Linked DNA regions of Homo sapiens: regions 1 and 3 are each linked to region 2. The links come from fine-mapping of genetic effects on gene expression. A gene starts in region 2. Each other region holds a variant in brackets. All regions are shown on one strand. Distances are between the middles of the regions. Region 1 overlaps SDK2 (sidekick cell adhesion molecule 2). Region 2 holds the start of SDK2 (sidekick cell adhesion molecule 2). Region 3 overlaps SDK2 (sidekick cell adhesion molecule 2).

The links. PIP is the estimated chance that this variant, and not a neighbour inherited with it, causes the effect.
Region 1: its variant is fine-mapped to the expression of SDK2 in whole blood (TOPMed, PIP above 0.99). The same link has a PIP of 0.9 or more in lung.
Region 3: its variant is fine-mapped to the expression of SDK2 in whole blood (INTERVAL, PIP above 0.99).

What each region holds. Positions count from the first base shown.
Region 1 is chr17:73,591,216-73,599,358 of GRCh38, forward strand. The region is part of intron 1 of SDK2 (sidekick cell adhesion molecule 2); the gene reads right to left. Among named protein-coding and RNA genes, the nearest start is that of SDK2, 49 kb to the right of the region's middle. RefSeq lists an enhancer at 3,935-4,480. The variant C/T (reference allele first, on the strand shown) is at 4,516.
Region 2 is chr17:73,640,968-73,649,142 of GRCh38, forward strand. It overlaps SDK2 (sidekick cell adhesion molecule 2), which reads right to left and starts at 3,478. Exons shown (of 45, transcript NM_001144952.2): 1 at 3,058-3,478. The coding sequence starts at 3,121. It overlaps LOC124904054 (a long non-coding RNA gene), which reads left to right and starts at 4,507. Exons shown (of 2, transcript XR_007065893.1): 1 at 4,507-4,727; 2 at 4,854-5,137.
Region 3 is chr17:73,552,669-73,560,843 of GRCh38, forward strand. All of the region lies in intron 1 of SDK2 (sidekick cell adhesion molecule 2), which reads right to left. Among named protein-coding and RNA genes, the nearest start is that of SDK2-AS1, 43 kb to the left of the region's middle. RefSeq lists an enhancer at 7,598-8,175. The variant G/GTTT (reference allele first, on the strand shown) is at 3,676.

The sequences.
Region 1 (8,143 bases), 50 kb before region 2:
TCTTAACTGTTTCTATATGTAAGGCATTTCTCCTGTCCAGACAGCTGCCACTGGACCCTCCCCTGGATGTAAGCCCCTAATAAAACCCTATGTCTCCTTTGCTGGCGCCGGGTCTCTTCTTCAGCTTCTCGAACCTGGTGCCTTCCCTATTGAGGTTAACAGGGTTTCAGCACAACACCTGCCCTGAGCTCTCTGCTCCCCCGGCCACCAGCACACTCTTCCGGGACGCCACAGTGGGGTTGCCAGATTTAGCAAAAACACAAACACAGGATGTTCGGTTACACTTGAACTTCCCTTCAGACCCAAGGCTGTTAGAGTTGGGGTTTGCAACAGTGCAAACCTGTAGGACGTGTAGAATACTCTCGCAAATTGGGGAATGCTGGTGCTCAAAGATGAAGCAATGTTTATCTGAGGTCCAAATTTACTTGGGTATCCTGTCTCTTATCTGGCACCCTATCTACTTGGAGATGCAGGTTTACAAGAACTAGGACATGGCATGGCGAAAGGTATGAGAGGACACAAGGAGACCTGGTCCCCATCCAGCACCCCCTACTCATGCAGGCACATGACTGAGCTTTGCGGAGATGCTTATCTGTGGGGTGGGGCAATACCAGAGGGCAGCCATCACGCGGCTGTCAGGAAGCCTCCTCATCTTCAAAGAGCATCAAGCACTAAAACGGTAAGAGTGGCCAGGTCTGGAGTGCAGCGGAGACTCGAGGAGAGATAAAAGGCTGCCAAGAGCACACCCAGCCTCTCTGGGGACGTGGGGTACGTGCTATGAATGCACCTTGCAGTTTCTCACCCACATGAGGGGGGAGTTGATCTCTGCGGTCCCCTTCAGCTTAAAAACCTCATGCTGATCCCAGGCTTCCGGACTTCATCTGTCAATAACGATGAATGCAGGGAACTGCAGCCTGTCTACCAGTAGCCCTTGCACCACAGAAAAAGGAAGGTAAATCCACAACTGGAAGAAAGCATCATGGGCTGCAGGCCACAGCCATGCCTCCGTGGGCCTGGCACTGTACACTTCTTGGAAAGATCTAGGCCTCTCGGCCCCCATCATGCCGAAATTAGAGGCTGGCTCCGTGTGGCTGCATTGCACCTGCCAGCAGGGTTACACCTGTATGATCAGAAATGTGTAAGAGCAGATTTTACTGGACTAATAAAAATTAAAATGACCAAAATGGAGTCAGAACCCAGCCAAAGAGGGAGTGTGGGAGGGAAAGAGTCTCCAGCTTTTTATTTTTTAAGCAGGCCAACCACATGGAGGTGGGGACGACTTCTTCCCCATGCCCCCGGCAGCACCTCCAGCCATCTGTCCCCACCACCTCCTGGCCTGGTTAGCTGGCTTCCAGAAATGTGACTGTCTGGAGTCTAACCGGGGCACACCAGGAGCTGTCACCCTGAGTCAAGCCTGGGGCATGAAGACAGGAAGAGAGGGCCGGGGAAGCGCGAGGACAGGGACCTTGGTGGCTGGCTGAGGATGCTCAGATGACGGGAAGACGGAACAGTCAGGCACACCCTGGCGGCTCCCCATTTCCGGAAGGAGGACAGGAACGGAGGTCCAGGGAGAGCCTATTGTAACCACCGTGCGTGACACCAAGAGCTTTGGGGAATCTACGGAATCAAAGAGTCACAGACACATGGCCTGGCCACATGCCCGTCTCCCAAGCATATTTCAGGGTTTAACCTCAGCTCACCCCGGTAATGCTGTGTTTGCAGCGCATGGGGGTGTCCGTAGCTCGCCGGTGTCACAGGATCACCCCAGAGTGGTGTGGGACGTACACTTGGAGTTCAGCCGGTCCAGCCAGCTCATTCCCCATTCGAGGCCCAGGGAGGGTTGGGTGGGGGGGATTGTTTCTAAGCTTACCGCGCAAATGCCGTCCCTCCTCCTCCTCCCCACCCCAGCTCCTGCTGCAGGTCTTCCCTCGACAGGCTGGGTACCCCACCCCACCCTCTGCCTACGTCTGTGCCACTGGGGGGCTGTGTTCAGTGTGGATGTGGGGCTCTGTGGTCCTTCTGTCATCCCTGGATCCAGAGTTACTCCTGGGGGCCCAGACACCTCTGTAATTCAAGTTGCTGGGCTACTGTGAGGCCCAAAACGTTTGTGGGGAGCAGAGAATGAAGGAGCCTCAGCACCCACTCCCTATCCTGGCCACAAGAGCATCCTTCCTCCTCATTGTGCAGGAAACCCCCACCCAAAGGAACAGAGATGGGGTGTGGGGGGCTTCCCCCAGAGACCATGAGGCATGCGCTCTGGGCCCTGGGGTAACCTGGACAACATTTGCCTCTAAGGGACCAGGAGTGGCCCAGGACAATAGACCCAGAGGCAGAACACCTAGCTTGGAAGGGCCAGAGCCCCCCAGGGAAGGAGCAGATGGTACCTCAAGCTGAACCCCTTCTCTGCAGTGCCCCCCCAAAGTGTGCCACTCACATGTTTACTGATCAGATTTGGGGTTTCTGACATGCAGTAATCGGATCACGGAAGGTGTTAACTGGATTAGGCAGAAGGCTTCCAGGAGACACCAGCTGAAAGTGGCTATTAAATAACACAGGGGCCTGGGCGGCAGGGCTGAGGGGACCCTGCTTCCTCAGCCCTCTTCTTCTTTTGTCCCTGGCTCCTCACTTACCCTCCTTGGCCATATCTCACTGTCCGTCCTTCTTTGAGCACTGGCCATGTGGCCGAGTCTGTGTTGGACAATTTGGTTGCATTATCTCCTTTAATCCCCACAGGGAATTTACAAGGTAGGTTTCAACCTCCCCATGTAACAGAAGGGAAAACAGAGGCTTGGAGGTTAAGAAAATGGCCCCACAACCCACAGCAATAAATATGTCTGGAATTCCAATCCAGCTTTATCTAATATCGTTTCCAACTCAAAAACTGTTTCCCCAAACCTGGTCATGTCAGGCCTCCCAACGTCTGGGAGCCAGCAGGTGGTTCACTCTGGCCAGCCTCTGAGGCTGAGTGTTGGACAGCGGGAAGGCGGCATTGATGGGGATTCGTGGGCTGTAGGGGAAGGTCAGCCACTGGACAGCTCCCTCGACCCTTGACCCCCTCAGGCTGGGGTGCTGGCCTTCCCCCGGGCAGCAGCTGAGGGCCTGAGTCTCATGTCCTCAGACTGCTCCAGATCAGATGGTCTCAAGCCCTTCTCCTGAGTATAAAGATGCCCTTCCCTCCCCCAGTGCTGCTCCCTAAGACCCTAGAGGCAAGAACTTGGTTGCTCCCCTGGAAAGTGTTGGTGGTGGGGATGAGGAGATGGGAAGAGAGGGAGGGGGAGAGAGAGAGAGAGAATATATTAGATATCACAGAAGCAAGCTGGAGTCCCAGCAATGTGCTTGCTCCTGCAAGACTCCCTGCCTGCCTCATGATGGGACAATGAACACACACACACACAACACATACAAATACACACAGAACACACAGAAATACACCCATAGCACACATATGCACACATACATGTAATACATAGCACACATATGCACACAAATACATGCACAAATACAAATACATGCAGCACAGATGCACACAAATACACTTAGCACATATGCACACACACAAATATACAGCACATATCCACACACAAATACACACAGCACACAGACACACATACAAATGCACACATAGCACACACATGCACACATGCAAATACACACAGCACATACATAGCACACACCTGCACATATACAAATACACACAGCACACACCTGCACACAGCACACGTGCACACACACATACAACAGGCCTCACTACCTGCCTGCTTCACTCCCCCAGCCCTTGTCACCCTCTGCTCTGTGGATCACCTCCTCAATCAGAACGCCATCACCACGAGAAAAGACTTCGGCCTGTTTCTGTTGTTTCTACCTCTGTACCCACAGCTCCTAGCACGGTGCCTGAAATAAGTGGGCATTGGGTGGGCACTTGCTGAATAAGTGAAGCCATGAGCCACAGAAGGGGTGTCAGTGAGAATTCGAGTGTGGGTGAAGGTGAGGAGGAGGAGGAGGAGGAGGGAGGAAAGGGAGGTCTGAGAGATGGGGAGAGGCAGGCCTGGGGGAGAGCGTGGCCCTGTGTCGGAGAGACAGAGAAATAGAGTCGGGGTGGCCACAGGTAATGAATGCCGTTTGTGGTGAGACTCTCTTGCCCTATGGCTCCAGATTGAGGGGGTGTCCCAAGGATGTCTGGGCACAATATTGGTGTGTGCCAGGGCCTGGGAAGGAGGCCCTTGTGCTTCCAAGAGATCCCACACAGCACCAGCCTCCCACACAGCCATGAGTCTGGGCCCTGGAGGGGACCCAGCCTCGGGTCATCAGAGGAAACGCTGTCTCCTCCTCGCTTGGACTGGCCAGTGGCACAGGCTCCCTCCTAGGGAGGTATGGAGTCACCAGAAAGGCAGCCTGGGGCCCAGGCCAGGCCCAGATGGCCCCAGCTGTTCACCACAGCCCCAGGGCAGGCAGGAAGCTGGGGTGCGGGGAGTAGCCGCTGACCCACTGGGAACCAGCATGCAGTTTGGAGGGGGG[C/T]CTGGTGGGGGCAGTGTCAGTTCAAGGCTGGCATCCACTCCTCACCGGCAGGCCCTGGCAAGGGCCTATCCTCCCTAGAAGGCTTGGAGGCAGCCAGGGGGGCTGAGAGGGGCCAGGGGAGCTGGGAGGACAGGCTCCATCCTGTGGGGCTCCCTGCTGCCTAGAAGCAGCCATCAAGCAGCCCGAGAGTGTGGCAGACATGGCTTAGGCGGCCTGATGGAGAAGCCCTTGACACATAGGATTGCAGAAGTCAGAGGTCTTGGCCTTAGGGGGATACAGTGAGGCCTCGGCACTCCCAGTCTTATGTCCCAGGCAGACGGCCCTCACCTACCCCCTGTGCCTGCCCCAACACGTTTGGGCTGTCCTGGGCAGGGATGCACACACAGGGAGTCCCAGCTGCAGGTGGTGGTAGCCTGGAGACCTGGGTCCTGGGCAGCTTTGGGACAGAGCCACTGGGCAATCTGGGGCGGCAGGGGTAGTGGAGAGGGACCCGCAGGGTGAGTGGGGAGGCAGTGGCGACCTCTATGAGAGAAGGCAGCCTGGCATATGGGGCAGTGATCAGGGCAAGGTGTCAACACACCTGGGTCCCCACTCCAACTGGGGACCTGGAGGAAGCCTCCTCCCCTCCCTGGAGAGGGGCATGACACGGTATGAACATTGGCCGGAGCTCCAGTCAACCTCTGCGACCCTCAGTTTCCTCATCTGCATAATGGGTTTGTGTGAATGTACGAAAACTCCTATCAGTGCATTTTACTTCTCAATATATTTCTGCATATACATATTCTGCATTCTCTCTGGCCTCCCTGTCCCAGCGTCCCAGCCTCTGAAAGGGGGCGCTGGCTCATGATGTATCTGTTTCCCGCAGTGACATGTCCCCGGAACCCACAGCCAACCCCCTTCCCAGTGGTCTCTGATGTTCCCCCCACCCCCAGAAGGGAGATGAGGAGGAGCAGAAACAGGGGACACAGGACAGGGTGGCTGGTTCCAGCCTCCCCGACCCTCCCAGCTCCACTCTGATCTTGTGGCCTCTCCAGCTCTCATCCTCCCTCCATGGCCTCCAGATGACAAGTCCCTGGGGATAGCTCCCTGCCATGGCTGGCGGTGTCTGAGCAAAAGAGGGAGATGAAGCTGGCTTGGAATGGGAGGTGCTAACCTTGTCTTCGGAGTTGCCCGCTTGCTCCCTCCACCCCTAGTCCAGGATGCGCAGGCAGAACCCCGGCCATTTCCATTCTGGGGACTCTGGTCGGGAGTCCGGCGCCCTAGGAATCGTCTCCTCACTTCAGTCTGAACCTGCTCCATGCCCAGGGACCGGGCCAGTGCACCTGGACTCACCTCATCTGAATCATCCCTGTGGGAGTGCCTGTCAAGAGCCAAGATGTTCCCAAGCTCATCTGTCTTTCTCTTGTCCTTTAACACGTATTCTCCTGATGGGTTTTGGATATTTTCATTCTCCTTCACCTCACCGGGGCCTTGAAGGGTGGAGACTCTCCCTGGTGCTGGCTACCCAGCACCCCACTACTGACACAAGACGGGGAGCTGCCCTGGGTGGAAGATGAGAGGATGCAATCAGATTTCTGGAAGCTGGGCACAAGAAACCTGTGACCAAGTCTCAGCCCTGCCAGGTATGACCCTCTGACCATAGGCAAATTATTTAACTTCTGTGATCTCAGTTCTATAAAGCAGGGGCCTCTCCTGTGATACTTTGCTTATAGAACTCTGCGATGTGGACGTATCTGTCTGGAATAGTTCCTGGGCTCGTGGGAGACACACAATCAACAGAACTATGGACATTACCGTCCTGTCTCTCAGGGCTCATGGAACGACAGGCTTCTGCCGATCCTGCCCCCAGCCCACCGCTATCCTTATAAATATGTATTCATAGGAGTTTTCACTGTGTGCTTCTGGACTATTTTCTTTTCTTTTTTTTTTTTTTGAGACAGAGTCTCGCTCTGTCGCCCAGGCTGGAGTGCAGTGGCACGATCTCAGCTCACTGCAAGCTCCGCCTCCCGGGTTCACGCCATTCTCCTGCCTCAGCCTCCCAAGTAGCTGAGACTACAGGCACCCGCCACCACGCCCGGGTAATTTTTTGTATTTTTAGTAGAGATGGGGTTTCACTGTGTCAGCCAGGATGGTTTCGATCTCCTGACCTCGTGATCCGCCCACCTCAGCCTCCCAAAGTGCTGGGATTACAGGCCTGAGCCACCGCGCCTGGCCTATTTCATTTTTATGATACCCCTACAAGGTGAAATATTCCCTTTCTACTTCTACAGATGGGAAGAGTGACGCTCAGAGGGTTTGGGTCACTATTCTGAGGTTACATAGCCAGCTGGTGTCCGAGTTGTTCTCAGGTGCCCCAAACCTAGAACTTTTCCATCCCATCTCCCCAGGGGGAGGGTGCTAGGATCCCGTGCCCCAACCCCAGTTAACAGCCACCCTCCCACCATTCACCACTGCCATGACTTTGGAGCCATCTAAGCATATACAGGTGACAGGAGTAGGCCGGACCCACAGGCAGTTTGCTGGGTTTGGGAGACTCGGTGTGGGGCGTGAGTTCCTAGACGCTAACCCCCTGTCCTCCTGGCTCAGGTCGCTGGGTCATTGGCCGACGGCACCTGTGCGGGCTCATGCAGGGCAGCTCAGATGGCACAGGCCTCCCTGACAGCCAGCTGGCCGAGGCAGCCCCATGCATCAGCCAGTTTTGTTTATTCTCCAGCCTTGTTTATGACTCGATAAAATCCATAACACGGACAGTGCCTGTCTCCCCTGGCTTCCCCTCTGCCCGGCTCTCGTTCCCTGGGGATGCAGCTCTGCTCTTTATAGAAACCACCTGCTAAACTAGGCCCACCTGAAACCCATCACTGTCAGTAAATGACCCTCCAGGAGAGGAAGCTGCCCAGTAAGTGTGAGGCAGCGGGCACGACGTGGATCGCTGGCCTTTTTCTTTACAGAGGTTAAAAATAGTCCCACCGGGAGCAGCCCATCCCCCTCCAGGGACCACCCCTAGCTGTATACCTATGTCCCCTCCAGCAGGGGAAGGTGGGAGAGGCACTGGACAGGTGCTGAGAAGACGTGGTCTGGCCAGGGCCTGGCACCTGTGAGCTCGAAGGCCTCGTGTAAGTCACAGCACCTCTCCTGCTTTCCGTTTCCATTTACACAATAAAATGAATGGATCAGGCACCAAGCGCCGGCTTGCTTCGATTTTTCTTCAAGTAGTGGAACCCTTTCTTTAAGTAAAATTTTAGACAGATCCCCAATAGATGAGAGTGCTGAAGAAAACGGACTTTTCCGGGTAAGGAGCGAGTGGAAAATGTAGCATCCCCCTAGAAAGAGTTACCCCTTTTCTTGTTTTTCCAACTGAAGTCTCCGAGCTTCCAGAAGGCTGAGGCTGGATATTTTTCATTGTTGTGTCCTGTGCAATGGGCCTGGCCCACTGATGTGTCTCTTGTAGTGCTTAGTACATTCGTACAGAAGGAGGAAGGTAGGTAGGTAGGAGGGAGTGAGAAAAGAAAGGAGAGAAGGTGCTGGGCACGGTGGCTCACGCCTGTAATCCCAGCACTTTGGGAGGCCGAAGGGGGTGGATCACTTGAGGTCAGGAGTTCAAGACCAGCCTGGCCAACATGGCGAAACC
Region 2 (8,175 bases):
AGTTAAAAGACTTCCAGGCTCACCCAGACCTTTCCAATCAGTGTCTGGGAGCGGAGCCCAAGAATCTGCATTGCTACAACTCCCTGGGAGCTAAGTGCTTGAGGGCCACTCTTTGAGACACAGTGATGTGGCCATGGAAGGAATTTAAAGAAACCTCCTGGGTAAGGAAAAAGAATTCAAGGTCTTATTGGTGGGTGGCAGGGTACCATTCTTCATGGACTTCTAGCTTAATGTTAAAACCGTCATAACAAGAATAATAATTGCCATGTATTAAGTACCTTCTATGTGCCAGGCACTGGCTGGGGCCCTGCCCCTGGAATATCTTGAATTCTCCTAGCAATTCTACAAGGCAAGAGCTATTATTGCCAGTGTACAGATGAGGAAACTGAGGCTCTTAGTGGCTAAGAGCCTTGCAGAAGGCCTCTCTTCAGCGAAGCGGCAAAGCCAGATCATGAGAGCCCGTTCTTTCTGCTGCCAAAGCCAATGCTCTTTCTACAACCTCACTGCACTTTGCTTGGGAAATGAGTTTGCATCATGTGACCCATCGGGCATACGGCCAATGGTCAAATGTTAGCTTTCAGTATACCCAGGTGATGTCGCTCAGGTCCAGCACCCACCCCCCATCCCCAAAAAAAACCAACCAGGCTAGGCTCAGATAAAATCTGGTGACAGTGGTCGATGTGAAGTTTGTCTCAAGGGAGGAACAATTGTTTCGTCCCTCGTTCTGTGCCATGCCTGGAGAAGCAGGCTTGTGGGCTCAGAAATGACAGTGCTAGTGGCTTCAGCTACCCCCCAAAGGATTAATGTCATGGCCTGAGACTGGAAAAAACTCACTCTCTAACCCCAAAGCAGATAAGAAAGGACCTCATGCCCTAATCCCACCCCCTCCAACACTCAAACCCAGCACTGCCAAGCCTAGGACCACGTTCCCACAATCCTTTGCAAGGCTTGCCTCCAGGGACACACACAGCAGGAGAGGGCTCGATGCTGGAAAACACTCTCGGAGCCAGAGAACACGAGCGGAGCAGCAGGGGACCTGGGCAGCCTGACACGCAAAAAGCCAGCAAACAAGAAAGGCAGAGAGGAAGTGAATCAATCACAGAGACTTTCTCTGCTTCTGACAGGGAAGCCCCTCCCGCAGGAGGCGCAGGGACAGGGGGCCACCTGGCCTTAACTTCAGCAGGAGGGGTGGGATCTTGGCCTCAAGTGGATGGCACAGGTGTGGACGTGGGGCAGGAAGGGACACATGAAGACCCCAAAGCAAGGGCCATCAGGTGCCCTGGGGACTCTATAAGGGCCTGGTCCTAGATGAGACAAGAATTGGTGAGCCACCTGCCCAGGGAAATCATACCATTGTTGAAAAGTCTGTAGAGCAATGAAGTTAGAAGGGTCCAGACAGATGCTGGCATCCCGTCCCTCCACGCCGTCCAGGCTTTTGGCTAGTAACACTGGTTGTCCCAGAGCACAACTGTGAGGCTGCTCCAGGATGAAGGACAACCCATTCCTATTCTGCCAGCATCAGGGTCCTCCTGGGACCCCTCAGAGAGGGGGCCCAGACCAAGGAGACCCCATGCAGCTAGTCCTGGTTTGAGGGAGAGAGGCTCAGAACTCATCTGGTTCCAGACCTGCCTCTGCCCCCAGATCACAGAGTGGCCTTGGGCAAGTCATTTAATGCCATTTGGCCTCAGTTTCCCTATCTGTTAAATGGCTACTAGAATAAGATGACCTCTGAGGTCCTCGCTTGTTCAAAGATTTTATGATGATCATAAAAATAATAACTTTTATTACCCTACATTTATAGGGCTCGTTACAAAATTTCGAAGTGCTTTTATGTAAATTACCTCGTAAAATCCTCCCCTCAGCCCTGTGAGTGAGAGCTGATTATTTTCATCTCTTTGATCTTGGCTCTCTGGATTGCCTGGCGCACGAGGCGGCGTGGGGAGTGGGTTGCAGCCCCCACAGTCCGGACCCCTAGGGTGGGTCTGGCCCCCTCCTGAGCCTGCGAGAGTGAAGGCCTAGCCCTGCGAGTCCTGGAGCTCGGTCCAGGCTTCGTCTCCCTCCGCCCCCAGCAGGCGCCGCTCGGACACCGCTGACACCACTGTCTGGATCGGCGAACCCCAAAGTCGAGGAACCGCCGGTGCAGCCGCCCTTCACCTCGGGGACCTGCCCGGGGACCAGGGGGACGTCTGGGCATCCACCCTCAGGAAGCGGGCAGCGCAGATCACACCTCGGATCCTTCGTAGCACTCCCAAACCCAAAGCCACCAGCCCTTCTCCACCGCGAGGCTGCTCCCGGCAGCCACAGGTCACAGCAGCGAGCGGCTGCACAGACTATCGAGCGAACAGCGGAGGCTGGAGGCAGGGGCGGGGATGCTGGGTGTGGGTGGATGGGTAGGAGGGGAGGCCTCAGACCCTCCCTGTGCACCACCCCCCGGTGGGTCCGCGGCTGCACCCGCGACCTTGGCTCCAGGCCCGCGCAGCGAAGCACCCCCAGCCCCAGCGGCTGGCCGAGCAGCCAGGGGCGGGCTCCCGTACGTGGCCAAGCCGGGCAATTGCTCTCCCCGGGCGAGCAACCCGGCATCCAGCGCTCGCCCACCCCACTCCCTCGCCCCGGGGAGGCCATCGCCTGCCCGGCAGGGGCCCTGCCCTTCCCCGCAGACACCGAGCAGGGAACCAGGAGCTCGGTCTGGGAAGCTCAGCGTAGCCGAGCGTGGAGCCCGGCACGGAATGTCGCTCCCCTCCCAAGCCGGCGCAGGGCAGCCACAGCAGACGGGGGGAGGGGAGCGCCCCTCCCACTTCACCTTGGGCTCTTCTCTGCCTCCCCAGGTCGTCCCCACCTTCCCCCATTCGGAAGCCACAAGTCTCGGAGAGACTGCCCCACCCCCAAAAGAGCCCCAAAACTTGGGAGATGGGGTGTCTTGAAACTCCCTGGAGAGGGCTCTGCCACGGCTAAGCCGGGTGTCCAGGAGGTCACCGTGAGGCCGGCCAGCTCCCGCCGCCCCTCCCCCGCCCACTCTCCCAGCCCCCTCCCTGTCCCCACGTGGGGGTCCCTCCTTACCTTGGGCTCTGGCCGCGCGGATCTGATGCAGAGCTAGCAGTGTCCAGATCAAAAGCCCCCACATGGTGACCAGCCTGGAGAGGGGTCCTCGGGGTCTCCCTTCCCTCCGCCCTGTTTTATAATCCTGGTGGGGTCCGATACCCCGTGGCTTAGTCCCAGGAAACAGTCAGTCTACGCGGCTCCGTGCCCCGGGGTGTAATATGCCCGGGAGGGGCAGCGCTTGGCTACCCCAACCCTTCCTCCTCTTCTGTACTAGTCCGAGCCCGGCAGCGCGCCCGGAAGGCGAGGGGCGAGCAGGGAGAAAGAGGCCAGGCCGCCCTCTCGGACTAGGGCGCCTCTCTCCCTTAGCACCCCAACTCCGACTTCTCCCAAACAGGGCGGCCTCTGCGATCCGGCCGGGTCGCCGGCCGAGCTCCGGAATAAATGGACAACTTCAGGAAACTTCCTCCCGTGGCCACGTTGCCCGCCCCCTCCCCGCCCCCTGGTTGGGTTCTCCCGGCCGACGCAGTCACCGCCGTTCCAGGCGCCGGGCCCCCGGGACCCGGCCAGAGCCGAGCGCAGTGGCAGACGCGGGTGCGGGGGTTCTTTTAGGGGCGCCGGTTTCGGGGGACGCGGTGAGCATAGCGGTCCGAATCTCCCTGGAGCTGAAGTTTTCTTCTCTCTAACTTTGCAGGCAGCATCTGGCGGGGCCGAACCACCCCCTCTGGGCTCCACCGCCCTCGCGCCGAATCGGGAGACGCCGGGTCTCCTCCGGGGGCGCTGGGGCCGGGCGCGCCCTCGGCTCCGCGCCCAGCCGGCTAGCAAACTTTGCGGGTCCCGGAGCCGGGCGCGCAGCCCTGAGCGCCCATGTCCGCGCCAGCCGCGGGGCGGCGGGGGAGGGTGCTGGGCTTCGCGACGCGGGCTGTCGCCGGCGCCCGGGCGCAGAGCCTCCTGCCGGCCCGAGGATGGAGACCGGCGGCTCTGCCCTCCGCCGCGCCCCGGCCGGAGCTCTCGGGAAGACGCACGGAGAGCCCGGCGGGCAGCCCCGGCTCCGGGGACGCGGCGCCCCTTCGGACGCCCGGCGATCGCCGACCTCCCGGGCCGGAGGAGCAACGGCCGCCCCAGCGCCTCGGCCGCCGCTGCCGCTCGCCGAGCCCGCCGCCCTCCGCTTCCCGGGCTCGGCGTCCAGAGAGCCGCTCCTGCCTGCGCCGAGCCGGAGCTGCGGGGGCAGCGTGAGCCGGGGACGAGCGCGGCGGAGGCGGAGACGCGGAGAGGGGGGCCGAGCGCTACCCCGTGGCCGCGACTGGAGAGCAGCCTGCGCGCCGGGAGGGGCGGCGGCGGCGGCGGCGGCCCCGAGCCAGGCCCGGGAGCGAGCCCCGCAGAAATACAATCCGACTGCGCGGCCGCGGGCGCCCAGCGGCTCTGGGACCCGCAGGGGGGCAGCAGTGCCAACCTTCTGCCGCGCCGGGAGAGATGCGCGCGAGCCCCTCCGCTCTCTGCCCAGCCTTTCCTTCCAGCCTCGCTCGCGCCCCTGTCTCAAAGGCCTCATAGGACTCCCAGAGTCTCCTATAGTCGGGAGCCCCCAGCCCCCTTCCGGACATGGAGTGATTGGTGGGGAGGCGGCGGTTGGGAAAAGGGGGTCGGTCAACCGATTGATTCCAGTTTCCCCTTCCCAAGTCAGGCTCTCCAAGGTCTGGAAATGCTCAGGGCGGAGGGGGAGACATCGGGAGGCCTGGGACCTGCAGAAGCCTGAGAAAGTGAAGTTGGTGCCAAGGAGCGTGCGTTCTTTGTTTCTTCTTTTTTCCTTCGGAGCCCAGCTTGTAAAGAGTAGAAGAACCGGACATTGGTGGAGGAATTCAAACAAGAGAGCCCGGAGGCGTCCTCTGCTGTGGCCCAGAGCTAGCGCCTACTCCACGAAGCTCAGCTGGGGTTAACAGGCTTCTGTTAAAATTTCCCGGGCACTGGGAAAATTTCAGGTGCCTTCGCCTCGGTGGACTCCTTTCCCTGCTAACAAAATTATTAAAAATAAGATTTTGCAACTGCGTTGGCATAAGGAAAAGTATATTAATATTGCATATTAAAACATGTTCTTCAGCCTAAAGCTTTACTTATTTTTTTCTGATTTTAAAAGAAATCAAAACATTTTCATGGGCCCCAAAAGACTATGGTCCCTGGCACTGGGCCTGCGGTGCTTAATGCAGAAGTCTACCCTGCGTGTCTGATATTTCTTCTGGGAAATAAAGAGCTAGTGAGACCCTCCATCTTTTGCCACAGTGCTTCTCTCTACTCTCTCTCGTGGTCCTACTTAGTCTGGTCCCCCACGGCTGCCTAGTCTTTCTGGTCCTTGAAGTCTAGGACTGTCACTCACTGATTGCCAACTCTTTCCCAGGCGCACTCCCACCCCAAGGACACCCCTTGTGATTGCTGTGGAATAGGCATAGCCACCGCAAATATATCGTTACTTATATATTCTCCTTTCACCTGCTTTGGAAGAAGAACCGTAAGCATTTATTAAAAATGTCTGAGAAGCTGGCCTGCCTTGCCTACAGCGTTTCAATCACCTAATTCAAACAACATTTCCCCCTGGCAACCTGCTCCATCCCCAGCTGAAGCCCCTCTGGCTGGCTGATTTGTAAATGCGAGGGCTTTGGGGGCAGGCAGCCTAGATGTGACCAACTCTCCTTCTCCTTGGTGGCCATGTCACTCCCACCTGCTTAATGATGCCCAGATGTGACAGTGCACACCCCCTACATACTCTGAATGTCCCCAGCTGTGAGCTCAGGCCCTTCCCAGACTGTCAGGAAGAGCTCTGGTCTTTAGGGTGCTGTTACTCTGTTCGCTCACAGAGGGGGCCTGAGAGCCGTATTTGCGGGGAACCTCTCCTTCTGTCTCTTAGGCCAGATAGCAGAAAGGGCTGCATCTCCGTTTACATCACAGAGGGTAGGAGTTCGCGTGGACATAAAAGTCTGAAACCTGGGTGGATTCCACCCTGATCGTGCCCAATTCCCAGAAGTCCAGCAGGCAGGAATGTGAGCTCCACGTGCCTAGGGCCTCGAATAGCATCGTTCCCTTATTAAGAGGAGGCCTCTTGCACAACCGTTTGGAGCCCTACAAACCTTCTTCTGGGAGTTTCATCCCTAACACGTGAGACGGGGACCCATCAGGGACTGGTGTGAGGAAGGAGGTTTCCTTTTCTTTGTTGGAAGTCTCCAGGCATGCCTGCCAGTTAGAGAGGAAAGGACACCACTCCTGCAGCTCCTACAGCAGATTTCGGTCTCCATCCATCTAGGATGAAGAAGAAGATTTGAGCTCTTTTTGGCCTCAACCCATACACATACACACACAGGAAGGAACTCTCTGATTTTGCCTCTTGCCAGAGTTTTGCTGGCCCAGGAGAAGGCTGAGCTGGGAGTCTGCCACTTTGAGAGGGGCTCGTTACTGGGAAAGTCACTTGCAGACACCATGAGCTCATTCTTGCCACCAGCGGTATAATTAGAGGTTGCATCGGTACAGTTACAGTGGGCGCCACGTCAGGAGGGCTGCGAGGATTTCCCAGGCTCACTCTGTTTCCTTGTTGCAAGCCTGCCCCTTCCTGTTGGAGCCCGCACGGACAGCTCTCCCGGAACACTCGGGACGGAACCTGGGTCTTCCTCATCTATATCCCATTTCCCTCATGCCCGGGGTCTGCACCTTGTTGAAGACCCTCCTCTCCATACCTTTGGCTCTTTTAGTTCGGGGTGGGGGGCGGCGGAAGCAGAGAGCATCACAACACATTTCCAAAGAGAAGGAAAAGCCTAGATCATTCTGCTCTGTCTCCTTCTCCCTTCCAAGTGGATGTGATTTTCAAATGTTACCCTTCTAGGAAAATGCTCACTGAACCCCAGATAGGGCCCTTTTCCTAGCCTTCCATCCCACACATAGTCAACGAAAGGGCAGCCCTGCAGAATCTTGTGAGGGAGGCTTCAGAGTGGGAGGAGAATTACCCCATGCCCCAGCCAAGGAGCACGAAGGCGAAACCCAGGACAGTCAGATGAGCTGCTCAGCCACAGAAGGCCCAGATCCTCCTTAGCCTGCCGTCCCTCTACATCACACTCCATTTCCCACACAGAACCCAAAGGCTGGGCAGGGACAGAATCAGCTTTTCAATATGGTTATTGTGTCTCTTTTTTTCTATTTTCAATCTCAAATGTAACAGCAGCTAGAACAGAGTGTGCAATTGCAGAGTAAGACTGTATCCTCTGGCAGCCCCGGATCTGTGTCGGGGACTGGCAGGGACCAGCCAGGAGGCAGTGACGGTGATACCAGGGAGGCAGCGGCACGTGCTTTTGCTCCCTCCTCACGCCTTGTACCCACTCCCTGTACCCACTCCCTCATCCCAAGTTCTCTGCTTCCCAAGTTGCTGGGGGCTGCCCTTAGCCAAGAAATGCACTCTGGTGGCGATTTTGCCTGGGAAAAGAAGGTGGAAGGAGTGAGCGCAAGGGTTGGACACAACTCAGTTTAGAAGAAAAATGAGTGAGGCCAGAAGAGGAGGCAGAGTGGAGGTGGCCTTTAAACTATGGGTCTACAGAACAAAATCACTCATTCGTGCTTCCCAACTACGCCGTTCCCAGCATCTCATTCCTCAGAGTGAGGCTGTTCTCAGGGTTGCTGTAGGTGGGGCTGGGCCAGGGCCCCCCAGAGTAGAGACTTTCAGCAAAGCCATCTATACTACCTGCAGGGAACTGAGACACCTCACTGCCTTGAAACAAGGGCTTCCAGTAAATACCTCATGGCATTCATTTTTCCTTTTTGTTCTGTGTTGAAGGTGGAGAAAGGGAAGTAGTGGAAGAGGTAGAAGTGGTTTATTAATCTCAATCGGAGAGAGAGAAGCCCTGAGTCCCTGTCTCAGCTCCAGCTGACATAACAAAATACCATAGACTGGGCAGTGTAAGCAACATGCATTTTGGTTTGTTTGTCAACTTTTTGTTTTTATTCTGGAAAACATTTTCAGCATGCATACTAGTAGAGTGTCTAGCATAGAATTCTGCTGTTCAGTATGATAACCACCAGCCATGTGTGAGACAGAGCACTTCAGACTGGGTTACTGACACACATTGAAATGATTATAGTTTGCAGCTATTGAGTTAAATAAAGATAATT
Region 3 (8,175 bases), 88 kb before region 2:
GATACGGGGGAACAGGATTTGAGCCCGGCCAGGCTGACTGCAGAGCTTGAGGACGGTGCTACTACCCTGCCAATGGACCCCGCTGTAGGCTGCTTCCCAGACGAAGTTCCCTAAGCGACTTCATCTTTGAACCAACTCATTTGCACTTCTCGCTCTGGCTTCGTTTACACTGCACTCTAAGCCCTCTCCTTGGCAAGTTCTCAACTCGAGAGCCCTTGCCCTGAGCCTCTGGCTGGCGCTCAGAGATGGGATGAACTGTTTGGAGAGGAGCCGTAGAGGAGAGGCTCAGACCCGTTTGGGTTCTGGGTTCCTCGAGCACCCTAATCCCAACCCTTTGGGATTGGCTGCAGCTCCCAGGTAGGGCAGACGGCTGCAGCGTCACGCTGCTTCTCTGGATGGATGAATGCAAAGGCAGAGGCTTCTGTGGGGGCTGGGAGGGAAGGGCCAGAGGGAGCTCTTGGCCCCACTCTGGGCATGGAGGTGGCCTTGAGCATGGAAGCACCTTCTGGGGTGTGTGTGTGTTCTGAATACCATCAGAGGCAAGAGGCAGAGATGGGGCAGGACAGGCCACGGGGGGCCAGTGGTGGGAGCCCAAGGCTGCCTCCAGTAGGGAAATTGATATTGATAGACCATTCTCACTGTCAAGGGCTTTGAGCCAGGACTTACTGCCTATTTAATACCAGGGTCTCCATAGTGACCCTGGAAGGTGGATGTTATTATCCCCTTGGTAAAGATGACAAAACTGAGGCCTCAAGAGATCAAACAAGTCCTGCCCAAAGTCACTGGGCCAGTGAGCAGCCCAGTGGTGAGTCACCCCCAAGCCCTGCCGGCTGCACCTATTCCTATGATGGTGTTTCCTGCAGGGAGCTGCCCTCTCAGAAGCCAGGATAGCACAAGGAAGGACAGGGGGGGACAGAGAGGTTTGAGGCCCAGGGTCACCCCTGAGCCACTACCTGGCCACAGCCTCCATCCCACCTGCAATCTCCTTCCTCGGGCCTACACCTCCTGCAGGTGAATAGCACCACCCCCAAACCCCCACCCTTGTTACAGCATAGCCTTCACCCAGGGATGCCAGTCACCCCCTTCCTGAGGAGGTGCTGGCAGAGGGGGCATGACCAGCTCCAGCCTGAGCCTCAGATTCCCTTCAGGCTTTTTGGGCATAAGATTGGATGCAGGAGTGGTGGTTTCCCTACTCCCTCCCTAGGTATAAATCTGGCCTGCAGAAGACCTCTTCAAGGGGAGATACCTAGCAGCCCCAACACATCCCCCTGAAGCCCTGGCTTCTTCCCATTGAGGAGAGGACAGGAGCATGGAGGGAGGGTTACTAGGGGAGCTGGGGCCCTGAGGCTCACAGGGAGAGGGGTTTTATGTCCTCCAGGGGGAGCTGGGACCACCTATTCCTAACCCTGGAGCAGATCCCTTGTCCTCATCAACCCATGGTCTCTGCCCCCTTTCAGGTCTTCTACTTCTTCCAGGAGGCCCCCTGATGAGGACAGGGGGCAAGTCATCCTCCCCTTTGGAAGCCCAGTGCTTTGCGCAATGCCAGGCACACAGGGGCAGCTCATCAATCCATTATGTAAAGGCACCTAGATGAAGCAGAACCACTTCCACACTGTTATGAGCCAAACTTCCTGCCCCCAAAATTCATCTGTTGAAGTCCTAAGCCACGGTACCTCAGAATGCAACTAAATTTGGAGATAGGATCTTTACAGAGGTAACTAAGGTTAAATGAAGCCATTGGGGTGGGCCCTAATCCCATGTGGCTGAAGTCCTTATAAGCAGAGGAGGTGAGGGCACAGGCTCATATGGAGGAAGAACATGTGAAGACACAGGGAGAAGATGGCCATCTACATGCCAAGGACAGAGCCTTCCCTCATGGCCCACAGAAGAAAACAACCCCCATAACACCTTGGTCTTGGACTTCTGGTCTCTAGAATTGTGAGAAAATGAATTTCCATCATTTCAGCCAGCTAGTCTGGTATTTGTTACAGCAACTGTAGGAAACTAATACACACTTCTGTGCAAATCTCTTTCCTTCCCTGGAATGCATCCTCCTCTATCTCTGCAAGTGTGAGCTCTGTATGTCAAGTCCTGGCTCAAAGTCCACCTTCTCCAGGAAGCCAGCTGTGCTGTGGAGCTCTTGGGCATCCTTTGTAGAGTATTGATTTACACTTATTTATGGGTTGTTCTGTAAATGTTACAAACCCATATTTGGGTTTTATTACAGGATCAAAACTCTGTGAGTTTCCTCCTGCCAAGACCTGAGTCTCTTCCATCTTCAGGAGCCCTCGAGGTGCTCTGAGCTCAGGCAGGGCCTTGGTGCCCAGACTGGCTGGGGACCAGGCTGGGAGGAAGGAGGATGGGGGAGCTTTGTTCTGGGTTGGCCCTCTGACAGCGCCAATCCCCATCTCCAGCCCTGGTGAACCCTAGAGCTTGCATTGTCTAGCTGCATATGCAGCCCCGAGCTGGGCTATGGGCACTTGGTCTTGCCCTGGGAGGCTATGAATTGAGCAGAGGAGAGGATGGTAACCAGAGAGAGCAGGAGTAACAGGAGTGCTGTCTATACAGATGAGCCAGCGAGGGCCTCATGGAGGGCTTGAGTCTGGAACTGGCCTTGAAGGCTGGCAGGACTTGGACTGGTTGAGGGCAGGGGGAGCTCATCTCCAGTGGGGAGAACAGCTCATGCAAAGGTGTGGCATGTGAATGGGAGTATTCCTGGCCTGGGGGAGGCGCCATTGGGAGCGGTGCACTGGACCTTGGACTCCGCGCAGCTCATCCTCGTCTCTATGTACTGAGGATGCTGAGGCCCAGGAAAGGAAGGGGCTGGCCCAAGGTTGCTCACTGTGGTCAGGCCTCTCTGCCCCTGGGCCTCAGAGGGGACTTGGAGGTCACTATTCCAGTCCCTGCCATCAGGCAAGAATGGTGGATTAGCCTGAATCCCCTATCATCTCCCTCTCTGCCTCAATGTCCCGGAGCTCAACTGGGAAGATGAGGAAGGGCCCAGGTGGGGGTAGAGGAAGTGAGGGGCTGCCAGGCGCCAAGACCACATAAGCAGCAGATGTCGGCGGATTAGCAGCTCTGCTTCCCAAAGCTGCCGGAGCCACTTAATATTCTGCAGAGGGGATCACTTCTCTTTCATAAAAAGCAAACACGGGACTGAAATGCTGCAGACTCCAAACACCTGGGGAGGTTTGGCGGCTTGAAACCTTGCTCCTGGGAAAGACACAGAGAGTCAGGGGGGACCAGGGAGTCAGCCCTCCTTGCTGGCCAGAAGCAGTGGATGGTCCCTGCAGGGAGACAGGCAGTGGATGCACAGATGGGCTTGAGCTTCTGGGGTTTCCAGGGAAAGGCAGGGGCTTTGGGAGACATGGGGGCACTGTCCATGGGGCTTGGGCTTGGGGTGGACAGTTGGCAAAGTGATGGCACTCAGTGGAAGTCACTGCCAGGAAACGACACATGCAGGGACCATTCCTCTCCCTCTTAATGACCCCAGACATCGGGAATGGAGGCACAGCCACTGAGGCAGATCACCAAGATGGGAAGCGGCAGGTTCTTTCCAAACAAACAGATCAACAGAGCAAAACAGCTAACAGCTTTAGTTAAATACAAATAATTCCAAGAAGCCAGCGGCAAGCTTTTACCTTCGGAGTTTGGGTTTTTTTTATTGTTGTTGTT[G/GTTT]TTTAATAAAGGAAGACGACTTTCTTTGATTAGACAGAGCTCACTTTATCCAGATGGGAAAGAAATACAATGGCTCTCTCTTGGCTTCCTCCGAAGAGCCAGGTATGTCTGGGCAGCCCATCTGGGCGATGCTCACTGGACATGAGGCTGTGTATGGTCAGATGTTTATGTACCGTGACTCATTTTTGGTAGAGGCATTCACGTTTGACCTGCACATGATTCTTCTTTTAAGCACACATTTTAGGAAAAATATTTGCTGAATTCTTATGCGGCTGTTGGCATTGCTGTTATTGTATGGTTGTTACCATTTGTTCCCCTTTGGGAACCTGTTTCCGGTTTTGAAAGGACTTCAGTAGATGTTAATAACTCAGCTTGCCTGGGTGGAAGTCTAACCTGGCAGCTGTCAGCACAAATTCTGGAGCCAGACCACCTGGGTTCACATCTGAGCTCTGCCCTGTATTGCTTTTGAGGGGATTTTCTAAGCCTCAGTTTTCTCTTCTGTAAAATGGGGGTGATGATGATCATAGAAACTCTCTCACAGGGGCTTTGTGAGGATTGTGTGAGTTAAACACACAAGGAAATTAGCACCAGATTGACAGTATGGGGCTATGATTACTGAGATTGGAAACAAACCTTAGCAAATTTCATTCTTCTAAGCTAGGCAAAGGCCACGCAGCAGCTAGAAAGTGCAGACACTGGGGTTGGCCTTATGTGGGTTTGAATTCTCCAGAATATTCTGGCTGTATAAAACCGAGCAAATCAATTTCTCTGGGCTTTGGCCTCCTTATCTATACAATGGGAATAATGAGAACTCATTCCTCATAAGAAGTAAGTTTCAACTGAAGCTCATGGAATGACACAGTTCATAGCGCACGCTCAACAAATGGTGGCTGCCCCAGTGAACAAGCTCGACCTTGCCAAGGCTTACCTCAAAGGCTTTGCAGGAGCTGCTGTACCTCGAGATTTTTTTTTTTTTTTGAGACAGGGTCTTGCCTGTCGCCCAGGCTGGAGTGCAGTGGCACGATCTCGGCTCACTGCAACCTCCACCTCCTGGGTTCAAGCAATTCTCCTGCCTCAGCCTCCTGAGTAGCTGGGATTACAGGTGTGTACCACCACATCTGGCTAAGTTTTGTATTTTTATTAGAGATGGAGTTTCACCATGTTGGCCAGGCTGGTCTTGAACATCTGCCCTCAAGTGGTCTGCCTACCTCAGCTTCCCAAAGTGCTAGGATTACAGGCATGAGCCACTGTGCCCAGCCAGATAAAATATTATAATGTTTCCTTTCTTCTTCCCATCCTCCTCCTCCTCCTCTCTCTCTCTTTCTCTCTTACTTTCTTTCCCTGCCTCCTAATCTCCCTCTTTTCTTTCCTTCCTTGTTTTTGGGTTGGAGGTCCTCTTTCAATAGAGGGTAGAGAGAACCCAAAGTGTCAAAGCCCTGCCATTCTAATTTCCTTTCCCATTAACAGGAGTTCCTTAAACTCTGTGAGTCCAGATTTCCTGCCCTCAGTAAGGTCTGCCTGCAGCCTCTACCAGGTAGTGATACGATGGGCACCTCTGGACTCAGCAGTAGAAATGGCAGCCAGTGGCATTGACCTGGATTCACTCATCCTCTCTCTCAGCCTCTCCCCAGGGCTCCCTGGACAACCAAGTCCAGCTCTCTTGTTCTAGGACCCTCCTCACCCTGTTGCTCTATCCCCCTTTGTCCTGCCCCATCCCCAACACCATGGGCTGGGTGCCCTGGGGGCACTTAGCAGCCCGAGCTGCCACCTGGGAGTGAAGCGCCTTCTGCTGAGGCAGGAGGGGTGCAGGTCTGCTGTAAAGGGGCAGCCCCAAAGTTCTGCCAGTAGATTGATGGGGAGTAAAGACTCTGACCCCACAGCCTCACTGAGCACATGTCAGAGGGGCTGGCAAATCTGAAAAGATGTGGCTGTGACTAGCTCTGCCTAGGGTTCTGCCAGATTTCCTGTGGAACCTTCCAGAATTTCTCCATTAATGACAACGACCATGCCCAGGTAGAGATGGAAAGAGACTCGGATGCCTTATTCTGAAATTAACTTCAGTTAGGAAGGAAGGGAAGGAGGGAGGGAGGAAGGGAGGGAGGGGAGAGGGAGGAAGAAAGGAAGGAAGGGAGGAAGGGAGGGAGGAACAGAATAATATTCAAGCACTTTTTCATGGCACTTTAAAATGTTCAAGCACTTTTGCATTGACTGTATCTCCTTTTATCATCCAGCCTGTGAAGTTCACAGCTCAGCATTATTAGGCAGTGGACTATGGAGGACCCACACACAGCCAGGTTCAAATCCAGCTTCATTAGACAGATGAAGAAACCAAGGCCCAATGAGATGGAGTGCCTTTCCCACCTCACATGGGAAGTCAGTGCCCAAGTTAACAGAACTTCAGGGCCCCCGCACCAAGCCATGTGTCTCTCCTACAAGATCCTGGAGGATGGGCTCTCAAATGGGGTCTCAACCCTCCCCCTAGATAGGAGCTCTTTGCCTGGCTTCTGGAACTGTGGGCCACCAGTCCCTACAGAATGAGAGGTACTCTCACTCACTGCAGTAGCGGCCTGGAGAGAAAACGCCTGCCTCCCTGGCTCTGTCTGCAGCCTGGCTCCCAGGACGTGGCCTCATTTCAAAGACTAAAAAGGTAGCTGAGAAACAAACGAAAGTTAGCTGAGATGGGAAAACCACCCATGGGAAGGAAAGAATGCACCATCTCCTCCCCTTTTCTCTCTTCTCTATGGGGAGAAAGAAAAACCTAAATACTGATTTCAACTGGACTCTCCTGCCTGCACCGGGGCCCCACAAGCAACACCCAGATCCTGAAAGTATTTGTTCCAGTCAATGGGGCAGAGTGACCCACGAAGGACAGAGCATGCCTGCCGAGTTCACACACTTCCTGCCTGCCTCTGGGAAAACTATTTAACCTCTCTGAGCCTTGGGTTTCCTCGCTGGTAAAGTAGAGATGGTGGCGATACATGTGCCATGGAGTGGCAATGAGGATGAAATGGGACAATGTACGCAAGACTGTTGGCAAGAAGCAAGGAGTTGATAAATGGAATAGACGATATAACAATTACATTGTAATGTGTATTATAATTCTTTTTGCGGGCTCTTGAGAATGAGAACTCTCTGCCAACGTGGAGAATGAGAGGGGCAGATGGGAAGAACACTGAGATAAGAGCAGTAAGTCTTGAGCAGGATGGTGTGGGGGCAAGCTCTGTCCATCCGCCACTCCCCACTCCGCTCCCTGTGCCCCCCGCCCCCGCCACCATACCACACATGTCACCATACTGTGGCTGCTCTCCAGCCTCCGAAGGGCCACCCCACAGGCAGGTCTGCAGCCTGAACAGGATGGGACAGGTAAGGTTGGCCCCTCCCCCTTTCTTTTCTTCCCTACCTCCCTGTCCTGCTAGAGACAAGTGCCCCTAATGCCTGTGCTCCCGAATCATAATGCCACAAAAACCTTGCTGAGATAGGATGAGAGAAAGAGAGGGTCTGAGACAACTCAAAGCCTTTAGTCCCTGGCCTGATCCCCCCAGGGCTGGGCACCAGCTGGTTGTCTTGGCCTCACTAAGCATTTCCTCTGTATCTTTAGCTTGCTGGGCTCAGTGGCAGTCACCCCTGGGAGGGATGGCATGAAGGGCTGGGGGTTCCTCTGGGCCATCACACCACGGGAAGCGGGTCTATGGCCCCAAGGGTCCTGCCTTGGCCCTACTGAGACCAGGCAGTGAACTATGGAGGACCCGCACACAGAGCCAGGTTCAAATCCAGCTAAGGGCAAACTGCCTAAGCTCTTACAGCCTCAGTTTCCTCACTAAAAGGATGCAGTCACTCCTAGTGCCACCACCAAAAACCACAATAAATGACAGACAAGGTGTTGTTAGAAAGACTGAATAACCAGAAATGTTCATGGAAATGACAGCTGGGCTGCAGGGCTGGAGCTGGGCTGGAGGCTGCTCTGCACCCGACCGTGCCTCGCATTAACCCTTTATTGTTTTTGTTTGTTTGTTTTTGAGACGGAGCCTTGCTCTGTCGCCCAGGCTGGAGTGTAGTGGTGCATCTTGGCTTACTGCAACCTCCACCTCCCAGATTCAAGCAATTCTCTGTCTCAGCCTCCTGAGTAGCTGGGACTACAGGCGTGCGCCACCATGCGCGTCTAATTTTTGTATTTTTAGTAGAGACGGTGTTTCACCATGTTGGCCAGGCTGGTCTCGAACTCCTGACCTCAAGTGATCCGCCTGCCTCGGCCTCCCAAAGTGCTGGGATTACAGGCATGAGCCACCTCGCCTGGCCTCATTAACCCTTCAGGTGTGGAACATGGAACATTTCAGAGATGTCAGGACAGCAGCTGTTTACCAGCTGTGTAAATACAGAACTTCAAAATCCAAGCACCCGCATGTTGGTGGGGAGTCCTGGGGACCACACACCCTGCTTACAGGGCTACTGTGAGGGTTGGTCAGATCATGGAGCCACTGGTGCCCACCCCCTCCCGATCCT